4 linked regions of the Homo sapiens genome follow. The protein of the gene in region 1 purifies or fractionates together with the protein of each later gene. This does not show direct contact. Each region holds a gene or a part of one and is shown in the gene's direction. Other genes may lie near its edges.

Evidence for each region.
Region 2: the proteins of MYF6 (region 1) and ID4 purify together in Homo sapiens (affinity purification with mass spectrometry; 2 studies listed by BioGRID and IntAct, with this or other methods). This does not show direct contact.
Region 3: the proteins of MYF6 (region 1) and NES purify together in Homo sapiens (affinity purification with mass spectrometry; 2 studies listed by BioGRID and IntAct, with this or other methods). This does not show direct contact.
Region 4: the proteins of MYF6 (region 1) and TBC1D4 purify together in Homo sapiens (affinity purification with mass spectrometry; 2 studies listed by BioGRID and IntAct, with this or other methods). This does not show direct contact.

The regions. Positions count from the first base shown.
Region 1 is NC_000012.12:80,703,178-80,710,020, forward strand, and holds MYF6 (myogenic factor 6), read left to right. Parts: upstream 1-4,456; 5' UTR 4,457-4,542; coding exon 4,543-5,061; intron 5,062-5,346; coding exon 5,347-5,437; intron 5,438-5,664; coding exon 5,665-5,783; 3' UTR 5,784-6,297; downstream 6,298-6,843. UniProt on the Homo sapiens protein: Involved in muscle differentiation (myogenic factor). Induces fibroblasts to differentiate into myoblasts. Probable sequence specific DNA-binding protein.
Region 2 is NC_000006.12:19,832,713-19,840,404, forward strand, and holds the start of ID4 (DNA-binding protein inhibitor ID-4), read left to right. Parts: upstream 1-4,657; 5' UTR 4,658-5,042; coding exon 5,043-5,483; intron 5,484-5,871; coding exon 5,872-5,916; 3' UTR 5,917-5,930; intron 5,931-6,497; 3' UTR 6,498-7,692. UniProt on the Homo sapiens protein: Transcriptional regulator (lacking a basic DNA binding domain) which negatively regulates the basic helix-loop-helix (bHLH) transcription factors by forming heterodimers and inhibiting their DNA binding and transcriptional activity.
Region 3 is NC_000001.11:156,674,408-156,681,228, reverse strand, and holds the start of NES (nestin), read left to right. Parts: upstream 1-3,821; 5' UTR 3,822-3,964; coding exon 3,965-4,747; intron 4,748-5,888; coding exon 5,889-6,013; intron 6,014-6,821. UniProt on the Homo sapiens protein: Required for brain and eye development.
Region 4 is NC_000013.11:75,479,170-75,486,571, reverse strand, and holds the start of TBC1D4 (TBC1 domain family member 4), read left to right. Parts: upstream 1-4,402; 5' UTR 4,403-4,804; coding exon 4,805-5,302; intron 5,303-7,402.

The DNA.
Region 1 (6,843 bases):
CCTCCTTTACCTTCTATTCTTTATGGCTACTCTCCGCCCTTGCTGGGTGACCCTTCGTCCTGAGGGCTAGCCTGCGTTCTGTTCACTCTGTTTCTCTCCTCTCTCTCTTCTCTCCGTTCTTCTATACCCTTTTCTTTCTTCTATTTTTCATAGTTGAAAGAGTATAATCATCGTCTATCCGGCCCTCAGTTCTGCTTTATCAGCTGTGGCTGAAACTGCTTTCTTTGAATCTGACTATGTAACCAAATTCCCCAGCTATCACCCACACAAATCTCTTCCCTAGTCTCTGACAGTCATCTATGTCTGTTTCTTCCTTGAGCTTTTTCTGACTGTCACCATCATCCTGTTACTTTCCAAAGGCTTTTCAAAAAGCTTGAACTTTGTTCCCTAGAAATGCCACCACAATACCTCAGGAACTTCTGTTCCCAAACCATCCTTTTCTCAAGCTTCCTGTTCAGGAGTGACTTTACTGTTACACACTCTTAGAGAACTACATTCCTTTCTTTCAAAGTTCCTAATTCGGTTATTCATTTGTGTGACTTTTAATTAGTATCTTGTTCCCCAGTAAACTGGAAATTTAATGAGGGTATAAATACATTAAGCTCTGCTACTAGAGCGACTAGTTTCAATATTTTCACCTTGATTAACACAAATCCCCAAATTTTTCAGAAACATCTTTCTCACCAAATCTAGGTTTTTCAGTGAATTCACTATGATTCTTTCCATCAGAGGCCTTACAAATTGAGTAGGAGAATTAATATTTGCTGAGTGCATATTTCATACCATGGGCTCAAAATATATTATTTAATTTAGTGTGAAAAGAAAGCCTATGATATGTGTAATGTATATGCTTTTTGATCTCTAATAAAACTGTGGCTAGAAACACATACTTAAGAATGGCTAGAACACAGATTCTGTCTTTCCCCAAAGGTCTCTTCTCTTTCTACCATATATGCAACATTTCCAAAGGCTCATAGCTAAAATCCACTGATGTGAGCTAGCCATAATACTTTCCTTCCCACTTCTTCCCACAGAAAAGAATTGGGAGGCACTCAGGCTTTTTTGGGGGGAAAAAATCATTTGCAAATGAATAAGCATGAAGTAAGAACAACAGGGTGGTAAACCACATGAAAACTTCCCATCCTGTCACTAATCTAGTTTCAGATTTTATGATGAATGAAGTCTAGTCCCCTTGGAGTGATTTTATTAATGATAATATTATTATTCCCCTATTATCATTTACTTTTTCCATAATTAAAAAAATATTTGGACTATTTAAAGCTTGGAGGATTGCAGTTTATGTAAAACTGATTTGACCACTTGTCAAGGTCTGTGTCTCCAAGTTCTACTGAGAAGTGATATAATTGCAATTACAGGCATCTCATATTTTGTAAACAGTTTGAGTTCCAAGAGTTCACTAGTTAGAAGTTTGGCATCAGTGCGTATTTTCCCATTGACCTAATCTAATAAAGGGTGATTATTTCCCAAGCTGGCATTTCCTTGTTTTCTCCTCCCACCTCCTGCCCTCAACTCCCAAAACAACCACAAAAAAGGGGAAAAATCTGTTTAAACCAGGGTAAACACTCCCACTAATTTTACTGGTCTGAGGTCTAGAGCGTGTTGGAAAAGGGGATTCATAATTTAATAAGGAAGAATTCAATAGGTGAAAGTTGACTTTATACCAGTAAAAGCCACCCTTGCCTAAGAAGTTGCTCCTGATCTGCACCCCAAAGCTTTATATACTTTTTTAAAAAAATAATTCTCTTTCTACATTTCTAAACTGGCTCTTTCTCCAGTGGTGACACTTGAATGAAAGAAACAGAAAAAGGAAAAGGCGAACTTCCATATTTTTTAGCGGGTTCATGATATGAAGGCTCTCTAACATCTATCTGATACCTCTTAAAATCAGTGGCAAGTCTAAGAATGGTAACACCTTAAATGTATTTCTTCACCCAGGCTTCAAAATTGCTTAGTAGTGATATTTTTCTCCCTTATTTTTCTCTGAACATACTAATTCCAATAATAAAAGTACTTTTAGAGAGGATGCTACATTTTTGAGGTGGGTTTCATGTTTTTAAAAGTTTAATTTTTATAACATCCTGTAAATATGGACATCTTTTGTCATTATGCCAATGTTACGGATTAAACATCTGAGAATTTGAGATAGTAGAGTTCATTAAATCCTCACAGGCCCCAAAAGACTATAATCTAGGCCTTCCCCATCCCAATTCCAAGGCTATTTCTCCCATTTGGTCTGTTAATTTAACTCACCTCTTTAGATTCAGACTCCATGAGAAGAGAGATTTTTTTTAATGCTTTATCCTTAGCACCTAGGACACTATCTGGCACTTAGTAGGTACCCAATAAATGCTGAATAAAAAAAATTAGTCATTTTTATCTTAATGTTCTTAATGATTTTTATCACAATAATCTTAGTTAACTTTTCAAATTGTCTTCACATTTACAAGAGACAACATAAAGTGTGGTTAAGAGCACAAGCTAATTTTCTATAATAGATGTTAGATTATACCCTGAGTTGCTGAAACTTTCAATCTGCAGTTTTAATTGCTGACTTGAGCAACCAAGAAACTGGCGAAAATAGAAAAAAAAAAGTCACAGAAGAAGTATTGGCCTCTTGCAACTCTTCTCTCTCCTTCTTACCATTCCAAAAATCTAAGAATAGTATTAAACTTGATAAGGAATAAAAACAGCCAAAAATATCAAAGCTTAACATCCAGTCTGTGGCTCAATAGAAACTGTGAAGAATCATCTTCTAGAATAGGCGACTTGATTAGCTAATTTCTAAATTATCTGACAGTTGATTTCCTGCATTATCTTCACTCTATTCATTTTTTAAAATAAAGTCATAAAGAACACAGCTTATAATCATTACTGCTTGGGGTAGAGCAATAAGATTTTATGTTCCCACATAGTTTTTGAGGCACTGACTATAAAGACCAAAACCAAGGTCAACTGACATCCCAAAGGCCAGTTACAGCTAGGAAGTCTTTCTAGAGCTCTAGGAGGAAAGGTGAAAGGAAGGGAAAGAACAACAAAACAGAGAGAGGGAAGAAAAAGAAAAACCTCTCCAACAGCTATGCTTTATTTCATTCATAGGAATGAGTCTTTGCCCTAACATGGCTTTATACTACAAATGATAACTACTGTTCATCAAGCAGCTATGTGCTATGTGTTTCACATGCATGGTATCATTTGATTGAATCCTCACTAAAACTGTAAGGAAACCACTATCATCTTGAAGACATCAAGATCTAGTACTTACCCATGGATATATACATAGAAATTAACCTTGCTAGGACTTGATAGTTCTTTGGAATCTAGGGCCCCCGCACTTGACCTTCATATTGTACTGTCTCCCGAAGAACAATACATGTATCTTGTGGACCATGGGCAAGCTGCAATTTAAAAAATGCTGTTTCCTTGCTCGTGCCTTGGTTGCTAACCTTTCTCACTTAAATCCTATCAAACAACTTATTTGGAGTCAATGGATAGTGAGAATGCAAAAGAAAAAGTGGTGAGCACACAGTGTGCAGAACTGGAATCATAAGAGAGGCACCTTGGAGGGGGCCACAAGTAAATGCTGAAATATCAAGTAGCTGTGGTGTGAGTCTTGTTTTCACTAAAACTATTTTTAAGGAGGAGTTACTACATGTATTGTAACCCCATCCTCTATCCCACTCCCTACCTCATATGTAATACTGCTCCACAAATGGAAGGGTACAGAATTCAGATCCTGGTTGCCCCTCTCCCCAAAGGAAAAAAAAAAAAAAAAGATAGTCAAGGACGGTCTCTATGGAAGGACCCAGAGAATCATTTCATCCAGTATCATGGGATGTGAGCACCCTTCAGCAACCCCCTCCATTTCCCAAATCATCTTGCAGCCTTAGTAAAAGAGAGGAAAGAGATTTACCTGCTTCTATTGAGGTTGAAGCCTGAAAGTCATGTATAACCTTTGAAGCACTGTAATGGTTTTAATCACAGGAATAGCATCTTTTTGAGAGGCAGGAGAGAGAAAGGAGCTGAACCACTCTGCAAATATTAACCCGGCTATTTTGGAGCAATGGCTATTGCCTTTGAAATCTTTCATCATGGGTCTATACTTAGAATTCAGATGAGCGCAGGGGGAGGGGAATAGGGCAATGTTAATCCCCAGTTGTTTTGAAGTTGTCCTGTAAGCAGGTTAGTATCTAAACTGCCCAAAATGGAAGGGTTCAATGCTTTGTTTAAGTTATGTGATTCTCTCTGTGTAACCTGGTCTGCACATAGATTGTCACAACACTCTGGGAGGTGACACTTCTCAGTTTTCTTTCAAACTAGATGTTCTAGAGAGCACTAGCTGCAATCACATTGGGAGACTGATGCTCCATGACAGCTAAAAGTTGGATTGAGTTTCAGGAGCTACTATATATAAAGCTGGGTCGACTTATGTCACTGCACTAATTAAATGCCATCTGGGTGGTTCCTCTGGGTTTTTGAGTCCATCACCCAGTTCAGATCGAGTCAGAGGCCAAGGAGGAGAACATGATGATGGACCTTTTTGAAACTGGCTCCTATTTCTTCTACTTGGATGGGGAAAATGTTACTCTGCAGCCATTAGAAGTGGCAGAAGGCTCTCCTTTGTATCCAGGGAGTGATGGTACCTTGTCCCCCTGCCAGGACCAAATGCCCCCGGAAGCGGGGAGCGACAGCAGCGGAGAGGAACATGTCCTGGCGCCCCCGGGCCTGCAGCCTCCACACTGCCCCGGCCAGTGTCTGATCTGGGCTTGCAAGACCTGCAAGAGAAAATCTGCCCCCACTGACCGGCGAAAAGCCGCCACCCTGCGCGAAAGGAGGAGGCTAAAGAAAATCAACGAGGCCTTCGAGGCACTGAAGCGGCGAACTGTGGCCAACCCCAACCAGAGGCTGCCCAAGGTGGAGATTCTGCGGAGCGCCATCAGCTATATTGAGCGGCTGCAGGACCTGCTGCACCGGCTGGATCAGCAGGAGAAGATGCAGGAGCTGGGGGTGGACCCCTTCAGCTACAGACCCAAACAAGAAAATGTAAGCCTAGATGCTGCCGGGGCAGGGAAATGCGAAGGCTGATTAAACGCCTTCCGCGGGGCCTTAACCTCCAGCTGCTTGGTCTTTTTTCCCTTCCCCCTTTCTCGCCCGCCCCTCCCGCTCCGTCTCTAATGAACCCCCAGTGACCCAAGAAGACCGGGTGCTTGCAATAGGCAGGAAATGCGTACCCGGCCCGAGGAAGCAGGAAAGCCGCCCCCCACCCCACCCCAACCCCGGAACCGATGTTTCTTTCCTAATCTGCCGCTGCCTTGGTTTTCCCTCCAGCTTGAGGGTGCGGATTTCCTGCGCACCTGCAGCTCCCAGTGGCCAAGTGTTTCCGATCATTCCAGGGGGCTCGTGATAACGGCTAAGGAAGGTAAAGTAAAAGGGCTCTGGGCCGCACCAGAGAAAATCCGGGAGGTGGATAGGATGCTTGGGCCGAGAGGGCTCGAAGCGAGAGCAGGGACGCGCCCTGCGAAAAGGGCGCTCTTTGCGCGCCGGGACCAGGCCTTTCCTCGCTGCCAAAGCGGCCTCGCGCGGGGCGCGGAGCTGCTTCGTGTTCCTTCTTTGGGTGCTATGTTTGTGTGTTGTTTTTTCGCTCAGGAGGAGCAAGTATTGATTCGTCAGCCTCGAGTAGCCTTCGATGCCTTTCTTCCATCGTGGACAGTATTTCCTCGGAGGAACGCAAACTCCCCTGCGTGGAGGAAGTGGTGGAGAAGTAACTGAGCCTGCGCTTGAGACCTTCTCCACGCAGCAGGAAGATCCCACCGACCCTTCCTGGCCTAATCCTTTAGATTAGGTCACATTACATTAACATTTAGGAACCCAGACCGAAAAGTTGCTGAAAGGGAAGGAGACACATTCACAAAGAAACGTTGCGAAAATTGCGAAATCTGTTGTGCATGCTCAAATGAAAACGCCTTTCGGCTTTGGGCTTTTATTTTTTTGGAACTGCGAGTGGCTTAGGTCTAGCCTCATTTTGTTTTTGTTTGGTTGGTTTTATACTATATTAACTTTTATTACGGTGATCCTTTTGTGCCATGTTCAAAAGAAGTTCATTCCTGTCTAAAGTGGGAAAGTTGCATTTAATGTTAGGGGTATTTAATGTATTTTTGTAAATAGTTTAACACTTTCTTTTTTTACGTAAACCTGAAATATATTTTAAATGTGGAATGATGTATATAAAATGTGCGAGGATCCTGGTATTGTAATATTAAAAAGAAGTTTCTATATGAACAAAGTTGGTCCTAATTTGATGGAACTGGAAAAATATGTTTGGAGGCATGTGTACAAAAATAAAGAGGAGCCATATTTTAATTTAGACACCACACAAGCCCATTTATTTGGGTGTTTCCTTACATGCCAATTGAAAGGAAATTTGGCTTTCCTTAGTCTGAATTAAACTGGATACTGTTCTCTCTCTCGTAGACCTCACACTTGTCATTGGAAGTGAATAGTGCCCAGAAGAAAAATGTCATTTTTCCTTTTATCAGCATCTTTTTCCGTCTGGTTTTACACTCCTATACCTGGAGATCTGGGTGAGATTTACTTACCCAAAGTTAACAATGGAATTTTCAATCTAGGAAAATATGGTTGCAAGAAATTACCACACCAAAACTGTGCTCATTTCCCAAAAAGATCTTCAGCGGATTTACCCACAAACGGCCTTCCCTCTTAGCCTTCCCAGGCCGCTCTTGTCCTGAAGTGTGGATCTGGAGTTCCCGGGGCTGCATCCGGCATCCTCAGGGCCGGATCTCGGGCCCCCTCCCCAGTTTTCTTGAA
Region 2 (7,692 bases), on another chromosome or scaffold:
ACAGGTAGACTTTTCGACAGAGTGCTGAAACAATTGGATCTACAAATGCAAAATATTAATTTCAACCCATATCTTGCACCACATACAAAAATAACCTCAAAATGGATCATAGACCTACACATAAAACAGAAAACAAAGACTGGAGACATAATTTGTGGGTCCTAATGCAAAATGAAAATGCAGGTTCCCTTGTTCAAAAATTACTAAGAATTTCAAGAAGGCAAGAGCACTAACCCAAGCATACAGCTCTTCTGAGTGCAGGACCCTGTGTGACTGCATAAGCTACACACCATGCAAGCAACCCTACCTAAGAAATATAAAAATTCTAGAAGAAAACCTATGAGAAAACCTTTGTTACCTGAGCTATGAAAGATTTCTTAGATAGATCCAATATCAAAAATATGAGCCATAAAGGAACAAACTGATAAACTAGACACCAACAAAATTTAGGGTGGGCATGGTGGCTCACACCTGTAATCCCAGCACTTTGGGAGGCCAAGGTGGGCAGATCACCTGAGGTCAGGAGTTCAAGACCAGACTGAACAACATGGTGAAACACCATATCTACTAAAAATACATAACTAGCCAGGTGTGGTGGTGGGCGCCTGTAATCCCAGCTACTTGGGAGGCTGAGGCAGGAGAATTGCTTGAACCTGGAAGGCGGAGGTTGCAGTGAGACAAGATCATGCTATTGCACTCCAGCCTGGGCAACAAGAGTGAAATTCTGTCTCAAAAAAAAAAAAAATCAAAACTTCTGCTCTAAAAGAAGATTGTGAAGTAAATGAAAAGTCAGTCCACAGACTGAGAGATATTTGCCAAAAATGGTAATACATTGTAACATGGTTTGCCCACTTATGTGCCAACCACTGTTCTAAGAACTTTACTGAATTTCTTTTACAGAGACCATATATATAATATGTGTATCTCATAAACACCTTATGAAGTAAATGCAATTTTAATCATTCCAAATATGAAAGGTATAGGAATTTAAGAACCCAGCTGAATGATATAAAACTAATAAGCAAAGAGGCCAAAATTGGGGCTTAGGCTGTCTCACTTCAGAGTCCATGCTGTTTATATCTCCTAAGGTAAAAACAAATTCCACTTATTTCTCCCCATTTTTCTGTCTTTTAATCTAAGGGGGGCTTTCAAAAAGTCACTTCTTATTTAAACCAACTACCTTTAAAACTCCCCAAACAAGGCATTTTTGACAGCCACATCTGCCCAGCCATGTTCAACGTACAACGTCCTCTTCCTACAAGCCTTTTCCAGGACCTAGCAAACTAAGGGGTTATCAGCATTTCCGGGACTAGTATCAGCAATCCAAGGGTAGCACAAGTAATTTTGTAACACTTAGTGCCTGATAAAGCAGCCTTGAGCTTGAATTGCCACATTGCCCAACTTACTCTTTGGGAGCAAGGGACAGTCCTGCTGCAGAGTACATAGTGGTTTCTTATGCCCTCAAAGAATGCATGTGCCTCTTTCTGTGACGACAAATCTACAGAGTGACCAAGGCATTGGAACATTCACGTTTATCTGTGTATGAGTACACTCACTGTTTCCCTGGAGGCTATGGAGAAACAAGTATCAAGTCCTAAAAAGGCACTGGGAATGAAGAGCACAATATGCTTCCATACCCTTGCTTCATGTAAACACAGGGTGACTATGACTTCTAAAGGCCTGGGTGTTGCAGTTCAGTGAGGGCCTGATTTAGTAGCTAGAATACATCTCAGGGAGGACAGCAGACCTCTTTGTCTGGAGGAAGGGTGTATCCATGACTCTGGTCATCACGGCTTTCTAGCAATTCTCCTATGAATGTTTCATTCTAGGTTCCTACTGAGGTATATTTTGGGAGTCTCGAGCATTTCCATGACAAAAGGATTTGGGTTAGCCCATTTTACTTTTACAAGTGCAAGTGAAACACTTTGATGTAAAAGAGTCACCAACAGACTAAGTTACCTTCTCTGCACAGTAGAAATAACATAGCTTGTAAGGTTTATCCAAAATCTGAGTGATAATTGGGTAAACTGTTTTGAATTATCAGTGCCAGGAATCTTCCATGATTGCAGCTTTGATGTCATGTAAGTGTCTATGTCTAAGAATACAAAAACATACATTGCATAGCCCCTAGTACTCTCTGGTTTCATGGACCAAAACGTGCAGGATTGTATTCCTTATTCCCATAGTATATGGTAGCACTTTAATTTTTTAATGTCTTCATGCCTTCCAACCTTCAAAACAAGGAGCACAGTAACTGCCTCTGCCTACTCTGCTAGCAGGATTTACGGATCACATCTTTCCTGGGTATTCTTGATCTTGTGGCTGAGGTACATTCCTTTGAAACCACCTCTTCCACCCCACCCCACACAGAGTAACTCAGTCTTTCTAACTTTAAGCCAGTCACACAGAGCATCTCCAACAAAACCTGAAACTTAGGCATTTGGCGCTTGTCACACCCAAGGCATGGCTTTCTGAGATTTAGCAAATTCCAAAAAGGTCGATATGATTCTTCCTTTGTGTTACGTATTCAAAACTTAAATTTTAATTTTAATCGTTAGGATATGTAAAATGTTTAAATGTAAGTGTGTCCTGGGCATATTAGCATAGTTTTATTTTGCCAAACAGAGGAAAGTCTTGGGTTTTGAATTTGGAAGCAAATTTTAAACTCTAGGAAAGAGAAAGATCAATGGAACAAAACATCTGTACATATATCCATTTATTATTATCGTCTGTGCTCATATGACTGGCTCCAAGATAATAGCTTACAACCAGTAGTGCTGGCTTCACCGACTTCCCATTTAAAATTACAACATTTTCTCTGTATTTGCATTAATTTAATGATGTATATGACTATGCCTGTCTTTAGAAGAAAGCCCTTCTGAGTTTCATAATTCTGATTTTCTCGATTAATGTGTATGTAGACCATCTACGTATGCACATAAATAAATGAGAATGGCACTTGTTTCCAAACAATTATTAGAAGCAGTAACATACAAGGATTAGGGGAGAGGAGGGTTATTGCATCTACCTGTGAAACCAGAATTAAATAGTTGCTCCTCATTTCATCAGGAGAAAGGAATGTGCTCTGGGGAATAGTGCGATAGTCATAAAGCACTGACATAGCTAAACAAAATATCTGCCTGGTGCAGGTATTTCAGTTCTGGGAATGGATGTAGAAAAAGTCCATATAGGGGTAGACAGGAAGAAATGAGGTCCATGTCTCTTTCTTTCAATTATCTATGAAAATGAAGACACCAATCCATGTCATGTACACGAATGAAGAAAATTCTTGGGTTAATTCATCTCCAAGCGTGTCTAAAGGTGGGAGGGTTTGTAGAGTGAAGGCACTCAAAATTCATTTCCCCATTGTCTGAGAATTTTTATGCACCTTTCTCATCTGAAGGGCTCAATTTTTTCTTGAAGGGTACACACAATGCTCCACCAAAGCTCATTGTGCAATTTTATTTTGAACCCTTGAAGGACAGCTTTTCTCTAAGAAATCTAACACAAAAACGCCCTTAATTAACAGGCTTTTTTTTGCAGGGTGGGGCCCAAGCGGGATCCCAGAGACTGGAAGTGTGAATTTTAATGCTTTGCTGTCAAAGGAGGCGACTCTGGACATTCTCATCACCTTATTTAAAGCGGGGTACGCTGACTAATACGTGAAGCTGTGCATTAATGGCCTAAATTAAGTTACAGGTATGAATTTTACATAAAACAGATTAATATTATATGTCATAATGGAATTTTAAATATTCCGTGTCCATGCATTTTTAATCTTTACGTGCTCTAATTGAATGCGCAAGGCAACTGCATTTCTTGAGCCCACTTTTGCATTTAGATGGGGTAAAAGAACCCCCCCCACGTTTTTGTTTTATTTATATTCCCTTCACCAAAAACCTGCATTCGATTCGGCATTCTTTTCCTTCTTTTTTTTTCTACTTTTGCTAAGCTTTAGCATTTTTTAAAAAGAAAACGGAAAGGCTACACATTCCATTCCATCATTATGGTTTCGGCAAATGTGAAAAGGCGAATAATGAAACGGAGGAGGGAAATATAGAACAGAATGAACGTGCCTTCTTGAACAGCGCGTCTTTCTTAAGGCACTGGAATCCCACGGATGGAGTGATGGGTGGCGGAGGGTCCCTGGGCGCCGTGCTATTAGGAGTGGCAGGGTATCCGCGAGCAGGGCCCAGGCGCTCCCTCAGCAGCCTAGTCGGGATAAGGGGGGCGGTGGAGAGTGAATTCCGGCCGCACATTCCCGCAGTTCTTCGCAGGAACTTCGCTCTCTCTTTTCCCCTCCCTTGGGCACACATCAGCCTGGCCCGACTCCCACTCAGCTCTCTTTTCTCAGAACCCCGACCCACAGCGTTGACGGAATGGAGTGCCCTTCCCATTGGCCCGAGCGTCATTCCCCGAGGTGGCACTGCCCGCCTGATTGGCTGGCCACTCCAGACCCCCCGCCCACTCCTCCACTCGGGTAGCCGGACTCCCCGCCCCCCAGCACCGCCCGGAGCCCCCGCCCTCGCCTCTCCCTCCGCGCCCCCGCCCGCGCGCCCAGCGGGCTCCGCTCGGCTCGCGCTGCGACCCGGCCCGCGCGCTGGTCCCGCCCCCGGGGCGCACGGCTCTATAAATACAGCTGCGCGGCGGGCCGGGCGAGAGCGTAGTGGAGGAGGCGCGGTTGTGAGTAGTACCGGGAGTGGGGTGATCCCGGGCTAGGGGAGCGCGGCGGCCGCGATCGGGCTTAGTCGGAGCTCCGAAGGGAGTGACTAGGACACCCGGGTGGGCTACTTTTCTTCCGGTGCTTTTGCTTTTTTTTTCCTTTGGGCTCGGGCTGAGTGTCGCCCACTGAGCAAAGATTCCCTCGTAAAACCCAGAGCGACCCTCCCGTCAATTGTTGGGCTCGGGAGTGTCGCGGTGCCCCGAGCGCGCCGGGCGCGGAGGCAAAGGGAGCGGAGCCGGCCGCGGACGGGGCCCGGAGCTTGCCTGCCTCCCTCGCTCGCCCCAGCGGGTTCGCTCGCGTAGAGCGCAGGGCGCGCGCGATGAAGGCGGTGAGCCCGGTGCGCCCCTCGGGCCGCAAGGCGCCGTCGGGCTGCGGCGGCGGGGAGCTGGCGCTGCGCTGCCTGGCCGAGCACGGCCACAGCCTGGGTGGCTCCGCAGCCGCGGCGGCGGCGGCGGCGGCAGCGCGCTGTAAGGCGGCCGAGGCGGCGGCCGACGAGCCGGCGCTGTGCCTGCAGTGCGATATGAACGACTGCTATAGCCGCCTGCGGAGGCTGGTGCCCACCATCCCGCCCAACAAGAAAGTCAGCAAAGTGGAGATCCTGCAGCACGTTATCGACTACATCCTGGACCTGCAGCTGGCGCTGGAGACGCACCCGGCCCTGCTGAGGCAGCCACCACCGCCCGCGCCGCCACACCACCCGGCCGGGACCTGTCCAGCCGCGCCGCCGCGGACCCCGCTCACTGCGCTCAACACCGACCCGGTGAGAGGCCGGGCGCCGGCCGTGGGCGGACGCCGCGGGGGATGGGAGGTTGGTGGCGTGGTGGCGGGACGCGGGCGCTCACCGTCCTCCGGGCAGGGGCGGGCCAGGAATGACAGCCCCCTCCCCCTGCTCCTCCGGGCTCCCCCGGGCCGCCAGCAGCCGGCCGGGCTCGGCGAGCGCGGGTCCGGGAGAACGCGCAGGGCGGGACTCGGGGCTGTGGGCGCCCTGGGCTGTCAAGTCCCGCCTGAGCCCGGAGGGGCCCCCCCGGCTACAGGCTGGGGTGGGGGCGTCGGCGCGCCAGCCTGATTTCCGAGGACAATCCAGGACCGTGTCGAGCGCGTTGTTTGCGCCTGCTAACCTTTCCCTTGGTGTTCGGTTGCTGTTCCAGGCCGGCGCGGTGAACAAGCAGGGCGACAGCATTCTGTGCCGCTGAGCCGCGCTGTCCAGGTGAGCGCGCATTTCCCGTCTCGGGTGGCCGGTCACCAGAGACGCCCGTCCCCGAGGGCTTCCGGGGCCAGGCACCGCGGTGTTCTTTGCCCCCAGCGTTTCTGAGAGCAAACTCCCAAGGAAGTAAATCCCCTCTCTCCCTGCCACCTAAGTAGCAAGTAAACCCGTACTTAGCCTTAGAACTCGAGGTTCAGTCTCGGTGGAGACGGGTCAGCCCTTGTCCCCGCCGTCCCCGTGTTTTTTCTGGTGGTCAGCGGGCTCTTCTGCCTTCCCTAGTTCCCGAGGGAGGGCACCCTCGTGGGCATGGGAGCTGCCCCGGTGTCCTCCCGTGCAGTCTGTCACCCACAAAGGGGGACGCGGGCAGGGCGCCGGAGTGGGTCCCCTCTCCGGGCTTCCCGAGGGCCGCAGCTGCCTGCTCGGCGCCTGGCCCGGCCGCGGGCGGGTGTTGTCTGACCTGGTGGTTTGTTTTGGGTTGTTGATCAAGCATGTCTTGAGTTTGGTCGGTGGCGCCAGTTAGTCTGCAGCGAGAAGGTTCACACACCCCCTCTATTCATTCCTCTTCCACAGGTGTGCGGCCGCCTGAGCCCGAGCCAGGAGCACTAGAGAGGGAGGGGGAAGAGCAGAAGTTAGAGAAAAAAAGCCACCGGAGGAAAGGAAAAAACATCGGCCAACCTAGAAACGTTTTCATTCGTCATTCCAAGAGAGAGAGAGGAAAGAAAAATACAACTTTCATTCTTTCTTTGCACGTTCATAAACATTCTACATACGTATTCTCTTTTGTCTCTTCATTTATAACTGCTGTGAATTGTACATTTCTGTGTTTTTTGGAGGTGCAGTTAAACTTTTAAGCTTAAGTGTGACAGGACTGATAAATAGAAGATCAAGAGTAGATCCGACTTTAGAAGCCTACTTTGTGACCAAGGAGCTCAATTTTTGTTTTGAAGCTTTACTAATCTACCAGAGCATTGTAGATATTTTTTTTTTACATCTATTGTTTAAAATAGATGATTATAACGGGGCAGAGAACTTTCTTTTCTCTGCAAGAATGTTACATATTGTATAGATAAATGAGTGACATTTCATACCATGTATATATAGAGATGTTCTATAAGTGTGAGAAAGTATATGCTTTAATAGATACTGTAATTATAAGATATTTTTAATTAAATATTTTTTTGTAAATATTATGTGTGTGTTTTTTTTTAATCTATGGGAATATTTCTTTTGGAAAATCATTTTTCAGCTCAATTACAGAGCTCTTGATATCTTGAATGTCTTTTCTGTTTGGCCTGGCTCTTAATTTGCTTTTGTTTTGCCCAGTATAGACTCGGAAGTAACAGTTATAGCTAGTGGTCTTGCATGATTGCATGAGATGTTTAATCACAAATTAAACTTGTTCTGAGTCCATTCAAATGTGTTTTTTTAAATGTAGATTGAAATCTTTGTATTTGAAGCATACATGTTGAAAATACACCTTATCAGTTTTTAAGTACAGGGTTTTATAGTGTAATATATACAGAGTAAGTGTTTGTTTTTGTTTTTCAACTGAGGTCAAAATGGATTCTGAATGATTTTGCATATGGGATGAGGAAATGCTTGGATCCTTAAGGAGTTTACGAAATCTGCTGTTTTATCAAAGTGAAAAAAAATTGCTTATTACTCTTCATTTTACACTAAAGCTTAATGTCACTAAGTTTCATGTCTGTACAGATTATTTAAATCATGGAAATGAAAAAAATGTTCTCTGCTTGCTACCAAAGGA
Region 3 (6,821 bases), on another chromosome or scaffold:
TTCTCTAATGCAGACTTCGGTGGGGAGAAGGCCTTCAGGGTGGGGGCTGGCAATTTCCTTTAGGCTGTGTGTGTGCTACTCAGAGGCCATTATTTTTAGTTTCAGAGCTTAGACACAAGTTCATTCAGAAAGTCTTTATCAAACACTCTGGGACGGGTGTGGTGGCTCACGCCTGTAATCCCAGCACTTTGGGAGGCTGAGGCAGGTAGATCACTTGAGGCCAGGAGTTCGAGATCAGCCTGGCGAACATGGTGAAAACCCCGTCTCTACTAAAAAAAACACAAAAAATTAGCTGGGCATGGTGGCACAAGCCTGTAGTGCCAGCTACTCGGGAGACTGAGAATCACTTGAACCGGGGAGGCAGAGGTTGCAGTAAGCCGAGATCACGCCACTACACTCCAGCCCAGGTGATGGAGCGAGACTGTCTCCAAAATAAATAAATAAAATTTTAAAAAATTTAAAAATTAAAAATACAAAAACATTATTCCAAGATCCCTTACCATCTGGTCATCTTCTTCTGGGATTAACTCCAATCCATCAAGGTCCCTTTTAAAATATAGTGTCCAGTACAACACTCCAGATGTGGAGGGCAATGGGAGTGTTGCCATTGCTCATCTGGACACCTTGAATCTATAGTCACTTTTATCCTTTTCACTTTTTTAGACAGCCACCCAGTATTGGTTTCTTCCTAACAAGCTTGTAGTCTTCTAAAACCCCCAGCTCTTTCTTCTTTGCTAGACACTCCCTACTCTTCAGCCGGTCTTTATTCTCCTCTTCTTATGCTGTTGATTTTTTGAAACCAAAAGCAGAATTTTACACTTATCCCTATTAAATGTCATCTGTTTTTTTTTTCTATTTTGCTAAAATATAACTCTCAGTTCTTGCATAGTCTGTAGATCTGATAAACATGGCTTCCATGTTTTCATTCAAGTCTTTAATTAAAACTTTTAATTGTCAGGACCAAGGACAGGTTCCCTCGGGGCAGCACACAGAACCCACTAAGCTTGCTCATGGCCATCTCTGGGGATGACTGCTGGGCTGACTTTGTATCCACCAGCTGTAGTACCACATAGTTCATATGTCCTGGGTCCAGAGACCCAATAAAAGGTACGGCCAATGGCCCCACAAACATCCCAGTAACTAAATGCAGTCACCAGGGAAGGAGATGAAGGGAGGGCCTAAGTTTCTCTAGGGAGGGCCTTATTTCTCTAAGTACCTCAAATATCAGGTATCTGTTTAGAATCTGGTAAGCACTGACGTCAGATCCTCTAGGTTGTGAATGCTGGAACCTACCATCTCCTGTTTTAGGAAAATCAACACCACACTCTTCCCCAGAATTCTTAACAATCTCTATTCCCCATAATTCCTAAAACTCACAAGAGTGATTCACAAGAGGAGGTTTTCTTTAGCTTAATGGCTTTCATTGTGACGGTCCTCAAAAAAGGCTTTATACAAAGACTTCCCTATACCTGGTCTTATTTGATTATCAGAACAAACTTATAGGGATAGGTGGGTATTAACCTGCTTTGCCAAATAGGTAAACTCAGGCTCACTTAGAGAAGTTATGTGATTTGTCCAATGTCATTCAGTTAGAAAGTGCAAAAGTCAGCTAATCTTTGCATGAGACACAGTTCCAAATGTCTCCCCTTTGGGTGAGGGTGAGGGGTTCAGAGAGGAACCCCCAGCCCAATGCCACCCTACCTCTTTAGGGGACCGCCCCCAAGAATCCCAGGGGATCTCAAACATTTAGCATCCCTCTCCTCCCAGACAGAAAGTGAAAGAAAGAAGGAGGTCGGGTGCAGTGGCTCATGCCTGTAATCCCAGCACTTTAGGAGGCCAAGGCGGGTGGATCACCTGAAGTCAGGAGTTCAAACCAGCCTGGCCAACATGGTGAAACCCCATCTCTACTAAAAATACAAAAATTAGCCTGGCATGGTGGCAGGCATCTGAAATCCCAGCTACTTGGGAGGCTGAGGCAGGAGAATCACTTGAACCGGGGAGGCGAAGGTTGCAGTGAGCCGAGATCACATCACTGCACTCCAGCCTGGGCAACAGAGCAAGACTCCCTCTCAAAGATAAAAATAAAAATAAAAGAAAGAGAGGAGGAGATTCCAAGCAAGCTCTGCTGGCCACAACTCTGGGGAGCCCTCAGCCCAAACCAAACAGCAGGATTTATGAGGTAATGCAAGGTTGAAGGAGCCTGGGCATCCCAGATCCTCAGCCTCCCGGCCTGCACTGACTCTCAGTCAATGTCCTGTCACTAACCCCTCCCTGGCCTCTATTCTACATATTGGTGGTGAATTCCAAAGCCCCATTGGCCTGGGGACAGGGATGGGGTCCTTGAGAGACTCCTCAAGGGGAGGGGATATTGGAGGGATGACTTCCTGGTTATTGACCCGGCTGTACCCTCTACTCAGAAAACCCTCTCCATCCTCTGTGCTGCCTGGCTCTGTCCCCAGCACCTTGGAGGCTGATTAAGTATTGTAGTCATCTTTTTATGTTTACCTCCACCAACAGACTATGAGTGCCCATCACTGTTGACCTCACATCACCAAACTATAAGCATTTCCAGGGCTGGGACAGAGTTCCTGCAATCTCTTTGGTGCTGACACATAGTAGGTACTCAATTAACACTTGAGCTAAATTGGATTTAGCAGCTTGATCAGAAACGCCTTCCCCAAAGATCCCCTCCGTCTCATTATCCCTGCATCTCCTCCCCAGCCCTACTTCTCCTTCACTGTAAATCCCCCAAATCCCACCTGTCCTTTACCTCCCAGCTCAAGGATGCACTCCGTCCAGAAAGCCTTCCCTACTACTCTCACCCTTGGTGAGCTCTCTACTTCATAAACTGTAGAATCTTTAAAAGGTTGTTTTGAAGATTAAGTCAGATCATGGAAGTAAAATATTGGAACACGACTGGGCACATCATAAAGGCTGGATAAACTTGGGCTAGTCGTTAGGAAGGAAAAGAATGGCCTCTTCCTGCTGCTTCCACTTCTGAAAGCCGCCAGAGGGCGTCCACTACCCAACATTCCCTGGCAGGGGGTGCGGGAGAAGGGGCCCTTCCCCAAGAACAGAACTTCCTAAAGCGGATGTTTGAACCTCGCAGTTATACAGAAGACTTGTAGGAAGGATGGACAAACGTTCTTAAGCCCATGACGGCCCTTAACCTGGTCGCTCCCTTTTCTGATGGAGACTCAGGCAATAGCGTGTGTGCGTGTGTGTGTGTGTGTGTGTGTGTGTGTGTATCCGTGTGTCCTAATATCAGACATTTGTTCTTGTTTTCCAGGCAGCGTCTCTCTAGCTTCTTTCTGCAATGCTGTAGTACTCTCTCCAGTATTTCAGGAGGAGGAGCATTTGCTATTTCAAAAACGAAAAACAAAAACCTGGCCACATCCATTTTTTTCAGCAGCCATGCGATTTCCATCATTGCTCACATTTTATGGATGAGGAAACTGAGTCTTAGAGGAATTCAGTAAGTGATACCTCTCTCGGATGTGTTGAGTAACTGAGACTGCACTCCCTCCCAGGCTGGAACGTCCTGGTACTCCCACCCCCACAGGCTCAGTTCTGTGCATTATCTGCCTTTTTCGGGGATTGTGACCCTTCTTCACAGCCTCCTCCCTCAGAAAGCCACCACCATCAGATCCGATTCTCCATGGTACAGCTTCTTCTTTGGTTCCACTCTCCAGCACCCTGGGGAAGCAGGAACAGAGGCTGCTGCCACTCTCTGACCTCTAAGGGGTTAAGGCCTGGGTCCCGCCCCTCTTCCCGCCCGCCTGGCGGGAGTATGAATAGCCTCGCTCCCACTCCCGACTCTCAGTCGCTCAGGCTACTCCCACCCCGCCCCGCCCCGTCATTGTCCCCGTCGGTCTCTTTTCTCTTCCGTCCTAAAAGCTCTGCGAGCCGCTCCCTTCTCCCGGTGCCCCGCGTCTGTCCATCCTCAGTGGGTCAGACGAGCAGGATGGAGGGCTGCATGGGGGAGGAGTCGTTTCAGATGTGGGAGCTCAATCGGCGCCTGGAGGCCTACCTGGCCCGGGTCAAGGCGCTGGAGGAGCAGAATGAGCTGCTCAGCGCGGAGCTCGGGGGGCTCCGGGCACAATCCGCGGACACCTCCTGGCGGGCGCATGCCGACGACGAGCTGGCGGCCCTGCGGGCCCTCGTTGACCAACGCTGGCGGGAGAAGCACGCGGCCGAGGTGGCGCGCGACAACCTGGCTGAAGAGCTGGAGGGCGTGGCAGGCCGATGCCAGCAGCTGCGGCTGGCCCGGGAGCGGACGACGGAGGAGGTAGCCCGCAACCGGCGCGCCGTCGAGGCAGAGAAATGCGCCCGGGCCTGGCTGAGTAGCCAGGTGGCAGAGCTGGAGCGCGAGCTAGAGGCTCTACGCGTGGCGCACGAGGAGGAGCGCGTCGGCCTGAACGCGCAGGCTGCCTGTGCCCCCCGCTGCCCCGCGCCGCCCCGCGGGCCTCCCGCGCCGGCCCCGGAGGTAGAGGAGCTGGCAAGGCGACTGGGCGAGGCGTGGCGCGGGGCAGTGCGCGGCTACCAGGAGCGCGTGGCACACATGGAGACGTCGCTGGGCCAGGCCCGCGAGCGGCTGGGCCGGGCGGTGCAGGGTGCCCGCGAGGGCCGCCTGGAGCTGCAGCAGCTCCAGGCTGAGCGCGGAGGCCTCCTGGAGCGCAGGGCAGCGTTGGAACAGAGGTTGGAGGGCCGCTGGCAGGAGCGGCTGCGGGCTACTGAAAAGTTCCAGGTGAGGAGGTTGAGGGCCTGGGTGAGAGAAAGTCCCAGAAAGCTCCAGAAAGTCCCTTATGAAGCTCAGAGACCTTCTGGGAAGGGAGTGGGGCTAGCTGGCTGCTGAATCAGGAGCCAGTTCTCAGAAACCTGGTGCCACAAGTCCTAGACTTTTACAGCCCGTCTAGTGTAGGATGCGAATGGTGGGGCTTCTCGAAGCACATCCCGGGTGGGCAGTCAGGCCCAAGACCCGTTGCAGCAGCCCCGCCACTCTCTGGATGGCACCTTCTGGCTCTGATGATGACCGGGGCTCCGGGTCCCTTCCCAGGCTCTGGTATTACTAGGAGGACACCCAGCACTGTCGCCTCTGCGCTGAATCTGGTGGCCTGGCCACTCAGAATCACCAAGTTCCTCACAGCCCTCCTTCTCCTGAGGGGAGGAGTGAGGGGCCGTGAATGAATGGCTACCAGCCCCCTCCCATGTCATGGCTTCTCGGCTCCCTGGAGCACATTCCAGAGGCCCATAACAGCTGCTCCTTCTCACAGGGCACAGATGTGACCAGCAGCTGAGAAAACAGCTTCTTGCCTGGGCCACACAGAGGTGCCATGGCCACCTCCCCATCCCTCCTCTCAGAGGAGACAGAATCCAGAACATGTGGGAAATGGGGGTGGGGCGGGGGTGAGAGCCTGCTGTGAGGAGCAGGAGACAGTTGTGGGAGATGGGACCAACGGGGGACGGGGGCTGTTTGCCTTCCAGTCCTGCAGGCTCCAGGCATCTTGATTAATCGTTTTTCCTTCTGCTTTCGCTTTTTTTTCCCCCTCTTCTCTCTCCATAACCCATCTCGTCTCCTCCCTCACCTCCCCTTCCTGTGGGAGCTGTGTTCTGAGCAACATGTGCTACCATTTAATCAGCATCCTCAGAGGAGGAGCAGGCCATGGGAGAGAGCTGAGAGTGCTGACAGGGGCCCTGGGCTCATCTTGGCTGATCCAGAGGGGGCTCTCTGGGCAGGGAATAGGGTAGGGGAGGCGGGGGTCTGCTACACAGATAAGTCAGCCAGGGAGCAGGAGGTGCTTCCCGGGCAGCGGCAGCGGGCAGGAGGCAGGTTGGTTCACAGAAGGGACCCCAGCCCCTCCACTGACTGCCTCTCGCCTGCCCTGCAGCTGGCTGTGGAGGCCCTGGAGCAGGAGAAACAGGGCCTACAGAGCCAGATCGCTCAGGTCCTGGAAGGTCGGCAGCAGCTGGCGCACCTCAAGATGTCCCTCAGCCTGGAGGTGGCCACGTACAGGTACGAGACGAGCCCTGTCCACCCAGGCACACAGAGGCACACACACATGCTGGGGCAGACTACGTGGCTGAAGGGGACCAGAGGTGTAGGTGATGGCAACTCTGCTGCCACTGGGTTCTGTGACTCTAGGCTGGTCACTTCCACACCGGAACATGTCCTGCCTGAAACCGTCTGCTCCCCCATAGGCTGGAGACCTGAGCAATGTCCTGTGCCCAGGAAATCCCCCCAGGAGAGATGATATTGCCGAGCGGGACAGCCTCTGGAGAGGGGCTGGGCCCGTGTGGGGCAACTGCATCCAGACCCTTCCCCCAAGGGGCAAAGCTCCAACTCTATGTGTGCCCGCACCCAGGGGGTCATGTCCTTTGGCAGCCACGGAAAGGAGGCATTGCAGGCATGGGGTGGCTGCACTGACTTGCCACCTGACCTGGGCCTCAGCCTCGTCTAGGGGCTGAGGGCTGGGCTGGGGGACTTCCAAGGCCTCTTCTAGCCTGGATGTCATGGGGCGAGACTCCTCTGATGCCCCTAGTGCCCTTGGTCCTGCCCAGCCTTTCATTGTCCACATTTTCTGTTATCCTAGAAATGGCTGAGACCAAGGAGGGGTGGCTTCTCACTTGCTATGTGGCCTTGGGCAAAGCCCGCAGTCTCTTCTGGGAAACTGGTCCTGTTGGCTGAGGGGCCATTGATGGGGCCTGAGGAAGGGGCTCTGTGGCTGGTGAGGGGCCACATGAGATCCAGGAAAGGAGGAGAGGCAAGGCCCAGAGATGGAAGGTCAGTGAGGCTCTGGGGAGGACGTGGAGGAGAGGGGCTC
Region 4 (7,402 bases), on another chromosome or scaffold:
GAATTTCCTTTTGGAGGTTTCTGTCTTCTAGCTTTAGGCTAGTAGGCTGGATGAGATGATTTCCAGACCTCCTGTAGGGCTGTCAGTCTGAGCCTTTGCTGTATGTCCTGGTAGGTGTAGCCAGTGCATCAGCGAACATGGTCACTGCCTTGTCCTCCTTGTCCTGACCACAAGGGCTTTTCAGTTCACTGACTCTGGTTTGTCTCTGTGCTTTTCCTTGGCTACATGAGGATATATCCAGTGCTCCCTTTGCATGCAGGGCATTTCCAGAGGCTGTTTAAGGTCTGCTGCCTAGATGCCCTCTCCCCTTCTTCTGCTTCCTCTCTATGATGGGCATGGGAGAAACACCGAGGTCTTGCAGGTTTCCTGGGCTACCCTTGGGAAAGAGCAGCACAGCTTCTGCTCTGGAGAACTATGCCCCCCTCCACTGACTTAACCAGAAGAGACAGAGCCTAGGTCCCCTCCCTGGAGATCCACAAGACCTAAACCCTCTTATTCCCATTCTTCTCCTCTATCTCCCAAGTTTGGGGAAATTTTCTTTAGTGTCTAGAGCAAGAGAAACTGACTCTTGGAGCATATAATATATTTTAAATCTTTTGCCTGCCTTGCCAGGTCCTTGGGTTTTTTTCACCTGAAAGCTAAGAATGAACTCTTTTGTTCTCTGTGTTATGCTGTGTCATCCTTTCCCTGAAGTGGGAAGATGGAATGCCCTGGCTGCCTGGGCTGAAGGAAGGTCACAGGGAACAATGAGGAAAAACCCTGTGAATATCTTGACATTCTGTTAATCACAAATGCTTGGGTTCTGTGTGTCATCCCCAGCTAGAACTCCACTACAATTTTTGGGAGGCGTTCTATTATTTTTTAGTACTTTATAATTAGTTGATGGATATATTTAGTAGGTTAACCTGAAATTAGCTAATTAAATCATTTGGCATATCTCCTCTATGATATCAAAACATCCCTCTTTAGCTTCTTAAATTCTAATCTGCTATTTATTCAACTCCACTCATTCATTCAGTATTTATCACCTACCTAGTGTCAGCTACTGTGGTTTTTACTGGAGGAAAGTATGAGACAAACAAATAATCCCTTCAGAGGAACTACTGACTCACATGTGGGGGAAAAATAATCCCTTCTCTCAAGATGCTTTTGTTGTGGTGGGAATGCAGACAAATCACCCCAAAATTCTAAAGAATGATAAGAGTTATAATAGTGAAATGCATAGAAAAGGGGGCAAAGGAGAGAAGGCCATTAGCTCTGGCTGGCAAAGAAAGAAAGATCTTCACAGAAGAGATGACTCTTGAGTTGGGTCTTGAAGAATGGGTCTTGAAATAGTGAAGGATGAGGAAATGCAAGTTGTGGGGCAGTGGGAAGAAAAGGCAGTTGGGGAGAGGAAGGAGCTGGTGAAGCCCCATAAAAACATGAACATGTACTAAGGGAACAGGGAGACTGTGTGGAAGTGAGAGTAGGGGAATGAGGAGCAAAAATAAAATAGGCAGAAAGAGTAGAGCGTTGCGCTTTAGGAAGTCTATCTCTCTCTCTCTCTCCCCCTCTCGATGGAATCTGGCTCTGTTTCCCAGGCTGGAGTACAGTGACGCTATCTTGGCTCACTGCAACCTCCGCCTCCTGGGTTTAAGTGATTCTCCTGCCTGGACCTCCTGAGTAGCTGGAACTACAGGCACCCGCCACCACGCCTGGCTACTTTTTTGTATTTTTAGTAGAGATGGGATTTCACCATGTTGGCCAGGCTGGTCTCTAACTACTGACTTCAAGTGATCTGCCTGCCTAGGCCTCCCAAAGTGCTGTAATTACAGATGTGGAGCCACCAACCCTGGCCCTCTTACTGTTTTCTAAATTTAAGTGATCAAATATATAACTGGGAACTTTTCATGCGCATGTAATTTTGTAAAGCTCTGCAAGTGATACAATGGTGGTAAGAAACTAATAGCTTACCATCTAGTTCATGTGTGTACTAAGTAAAATAGATGTATGAATGATTATAAAACAATTTGTATAAAACATATTAATGCTAGAGTATAACAATTTTATTTGCAGGATAAGAGAGATTAATAACACAGTAGAAAACAATCTACAATCTCAGTGGCTTAGTGGAACAAAAGTTTATTTCTTACTCCTGAGGAGTCTGCTGTAGGCCTGGGAGATTCTCCAGGACAGATGTCTGATGTGTGTTGGCTCAGCCTTTGGGGCTGCTTTGGTTACAAGGGGCTGCTTTGGTTACAAGGCGCCTCTACCTGGACATGTCTCCATGATGGCCACTGGAGAGAAGAGTGGGCAGGAGCCTCGACTACTGGCAATTAAATGCTTCTACCCAAGTCACTTCTGTTCACATTTCACTGTCAAAACAAGTCATATGATTGTGGCTAACTTCAAGGAGGGCAGGAAAGGACTATCTGCCCATGTGTGAGGATTCAGAGAGGATCAGACAGTAAAAATGCTCAGTAGCATTCAGTAAGATAAACCTAACAGGGCTGGGTGCAGTGGCTCATGCCTGTAATCCCAGCATTTTGGGAGGCTGAGCTGGGCGGACTGCCTGAGATCACCCCGTCTCTACTAAAAATACAAAAAAATTTGCCAAGCATGGTGGTGTGCACCTGTAATCCCAGCTACTTGGGAGGCTGAGGCAGGGGAATTGCTTGAACCACGGAGGTGGAGGTTTCAGTGAACCGAGATCGCACCACTGCACTCCAGCCTGGGCGACAGAACGAGACTCCGTCTCAGAAAACAAAAACAAAAACAAAAACAAAAACAAAAAAAATAACAATAGAAAGAATGAGGGGCATTCTCAAGCAGAAAGCAATCATACTTAGCATGTCATGTAATAAAAGACAATTCTGTTTTTCTGTCAATCAGTGAAAGGGTGTTCTTTGTTACTTCACTTTATTATGCCAGTAGTAACTGGCCTGCTGGAGCTATTAATTCAATCCTAGCTCCCAAGCTGGTTGATTTCGTAGAGTCTACAAGACTTCCATGCTTTCTCCATATCTTTGTTCCTTTCTTTTATGTCTCAGATATGTAGCCTAAGGAAATGGGATCTGTGTAACAGAGTTTCTGGGAAGGTTCTAGAAGGTCTCAGTCTACCTTCCAAGAACTTTTCATTGCTTCTTTGAAGACATGGGTCTTTTTGAACAAAGGTTTTTTAAGTGGTTCAACCAAATGACTTAACCTAATCAATTAGTAATGTCTCCATCTTGGAACTTAGATACCTATTAATAAGAGAGCCATCAGAGTGCAACCAGAAATTCAGCATAAGAACAATGGCAGTTGGTTATATTGATCTTAAATAAATAGAAGGGAAAAAGTGGTCCCAGGGCTTTATAAAAAGTGAGAACTCATTAAACTAAAAACCAAGAAACCCGAGTTTTCATTCTTCTTGTAAGCACTTAGGAGAAAGTCAGGAACTTCTGTGTCTTTCTTATTTATTTTGTCTTTACTTCTTACCCAATTCTTAATTATCATTCGGTATGAGTAAAAAGGGAGAATACTTGTCTACCTGTCTTAAAATTACAATGATCAAATTATTCCAAACTTTTTTTTAGTTCTTTGGAAATATGTATTACCACATATATATAAAAGAACAAGAAATCTCTACATTAGCTCTCAACTGGGGATATAACATAAATAAAACATAACTTTTCCATATTTTAAGAAGTTGGCTGCTTTAATAACTAGGAAGATTCAAGCTGTCGATATTATGTTTTAAAGTGAAATTTGGAACTGGAATTTATAATATTGTGATTGAAAACACGAGCGTTTTTTGAGATTATTAGGAAAGATAATTCAGAAATTAATGTGTAGGCTTTAGAAGGAACTGAAACCAAGCAAATACTGTTAAAAAAAAATCCCAGTTCTCCACTGCGAGTGGCCCCCTCTCTAGGGGGCAGCAGAGACGCCCGGGAGGAGACGGAGATCGCGGCGACTCAAGAGAGGCCAAGTGGGTCCGGGCAGTGCCCGCGCCAGGCTCTGAGCTGCAGCCCCAAGGGCGGGGGTCGAAGGAAGAGGCGAAGAGGCGGAGAGGCGGCTTCACGGATAAGCTTTTGCAGGCGACGCTCTCCGCCCGCCGGACGGGAGGCGGAGTAGCAGCCCGATTAAAGAAGCAGCCTGGAAGGAAGGAAGGAAGGAGCGAGGGAGGGACGGGAACGGCAGGAGGAGGAGCAGCGAGCTGGGCTGCAGCTGCGGCGGGAGGAGGAGCGGCCCCCGCGAGGCCACGTTTTGTTTTTGTTATTTTCCACTGGAGTAGTTGCCGGAGCCTTTCCTGAGGACTGACCGCGCCGCAGCCCTGCAGCCCCGACCTTCCAGGTGACAGCCGGTCACCCTGGTAGGAGTCAGCTCCGCCCCAAGTCACCCCCTCCCGCCCACAGCCCCATTCCCCGCCCAGCCACCCAGTGTCTGCCCCAGGCGAGCGCGGCGGCCGCAGCGGGGCTGCAGCGCTGGAGCCGGCGGCCGCGGGGACCCTCGGCGTGGTCCTCTGACCCTGCAAACCCGCGACGGAGGAAGGGGAGGTCCTGCCCGAGGCGCCAGCCCAAGGAGGAGGATGCCCATTTAACCCGCCCTCGCCTGCCGGGCGCTTGCCTCGGTGCCCGCCGCCGGAGCCTCCGAGCCGCGCCCGTGGAAGTGCTGCATGGGGCAGGGCTGCTGAAGCGCGGAGTTCGGGGTCGCGCCGCTCCCAGGCAGGCGCGGGAGCCCGGTGCGGCAGTTGGCACAGTTTCGGCGGCGCCTTCTGCGCGGGAGTGGGGGGCGCGGTGCGCCCGGCCGGCCTCCGCGGTGCCCTGGTGAGGCGAGAGTTATGGAGCCGCCCAGCTGCATTCAGGATGAGCCGTTCCCGCACCCCCTGGAGCCCGAGCCGGGCGTCTCAGCTCAGCCCGGCCCCGGGAAGCCAAGCGATAAGCGGTTCCGGCTGTGGTACGTTGGGGGGTCGTGCCTGGACCACAGGACCACGCTGCCTATGCTGCCCTGGCTCATGGCCGAGATCCGCAGGCGCAGCCAGAAGCCCGAGGCGGGCGGCTGCGGGGCGCCGGCGGCCCGAGAGGTGATCCTGGTGCTCAGCGCGCCCTTCCTGCGTTGCGTCCCCGCGCCGGGCGCTGGGGCCTCGGGGGGCACTAGTCCGTCGGCCACGCAGCCCAACCCGGCGGTATTCATCTTCGAGCACAAGGCGCAGCATATCTCGCGCTTCATCCACAACAGCCACGACCTCACCTACTTTGCCTACCTGATCAAGGCGCAGCCCGACGACCCCGAGTCGCAGATGGCCTGCCACGTTTTCCGCGCCACAGACCCCAGCCAGGCAAGACAGGGGCTCGGAGGCGCGGGGGCGGGCTCGGCCTTGGGGGATCGGGGAGCAGGGCGGGAGGGGCGGGGACCCCACTTTAAGGACCGACTGAGGTTTGGCTGCAGGCGCGCGCGCTCCACGTGGCGCGCTCAAGCGCCGGCTGGCCCCTTCCCTGGACCTTGGGAGTGGGAGAGAAGGCGTTCGGGGGCTGGGCGAGCGGCGGGAGCGGCCGGCCGGCTACAGCAGGGACCCGGAGGGAAAAGGACAACGGTCCCGGGATGGAGGGGGAGCTGGCGCGTCCAAGGAGCACGCGTGGAGGAGCGCCCGTCCCGGGAGGACGGCGGTGTCTGGGGTGTGACCGGAGATGGCTTGCTTGCCGTGTGTGTGTGTGTGTGTGTGTGTGTGTGCGTGCGTGTGCGCGCGAGCGCGTGTATGAACGCAGAAGGTTGGGTTCCTAGAGGTCCTCACTAGTTCTCAATCGCAGTCAAATCCTTAACCGGTTTGGCTGGTCGCGTCATCTTCGCAGCAGCACCTGCAGGTCTCCGGTCTGGGAGGCAATTTCCGAGCGGGGCTTAGGGAAAAGTTACTAGACATCGTCAGATTGTCTGCAAAGAAGGATTCTACATTTGGATATTGAATGGAAAGAAGCCCTTTTTTTGCGGTTTTTAAACACACTTATTGGAGGCAGTGTAGTAGAACAGGTTTCTAATATCATTTTTTAAATGTTTTTTTCACTTTTGTTTTTAATATTTTTTTTCCAGAGTCTTCTAAATCTAATTACCAAACAGTAAACTTTACTTCCTTAAAAACAGATATGGTCCTTATGGAACAGGGAGAGGAGAACTTGACTATGCAGTGATTGTGTCTTTGAAAACAGAGTTTTCCCCCTTTAATTTGTAATGAGTTTTCTCCCCGCCATATCAAAAGCTTCCAAAATGCTGTTTTAAAAATGGTTATTTACTGTTTGCACAGTACTTTAGGTTCTTTGGAAAAATAGTGTTGTCTAAATATAAATAAAGTCTCAGGTTGCACCATGTGGCTTTCTTTTGGTAACTGGGAAATTAATCGTAGTCAGATGAGAAAAACATCCTATAAATATGGCTTTAATTTTTTTTATTTCACAATTCTTCTGTCTGTAATTGAAAGACTTAGTTCAACAGTTTTCACAAAAGGCTTGTAGTTGAATTGAAGAAAATAATAGTTCATTGTCTTAGATTTCATCAGTTACTTTGAAAAATAGGTTTTTTTTTTTTGAGACGGAGTCTTGCTCTGTCGCCCAGGCTGGAGCGCAGTGGTGCGATCTCGGCTCACTGCAACCTCCACCTTCCGGGTTCAAGTGATTCTCGTGCCTCAGCCTCCCCAGTAGCTGGCATTACAGGCACCCAACAATCAGAACTCCTAATGTGAAGTTATGTTTATGGCATAACTGTTATGTTTATGGCAAAATATCGTACTAAAATTATTTCAAGATCCTAACCACGATTTAATGAATTTCATTTTGTGAACATTTGTTCAAAACTTATTTTTAGCTTTCACATATGTTAAAATTGGAAAGTTTCTGAAAGCTATTACATTTTATTGTATTACATTTTTCTGGTTCTGGTGGTAAAGAGGAGCCAGTTGCATTTTTCCAGGACTTTAAGGAACTTTTCATGACTCTCGGGGGTTTCTGTTAAAGTTATTTCCCCCCAGCGACATCTGATGCATGACACATTGTTGCTAATCTCATTGATGGTCCTGGCACCTTTAGTTCTCAACAGCTGCTGTTGAGTTCCTCTTGGTCTCATTGGTAGGAAGTCAATTATAAACATTCCTTTATTTTCCTCCATTATATATTTAAGCGTTAGAGGCTGAACTATATAAATATTAATATGTTTAGGCTCACTTCCCCCTTTTAGTCCAGTGGGAGCAGTGGTAGTCATATGACTTTCTCATAAAAGTTCAAGAAAACCTCTAACTTTCCTGTTTATTGCCTTTTCCCAGATGAGTGTTTGATCTAAAGATATGAATTACTATTTGCTCTTAACCAAGAGATTTCCTGGCAGAGGGTTATTAATTTGAAGGGCCAGATGTAGCGTCTCTAGAGAGCATCTCCAGCCATTAATCGGTGGTTAC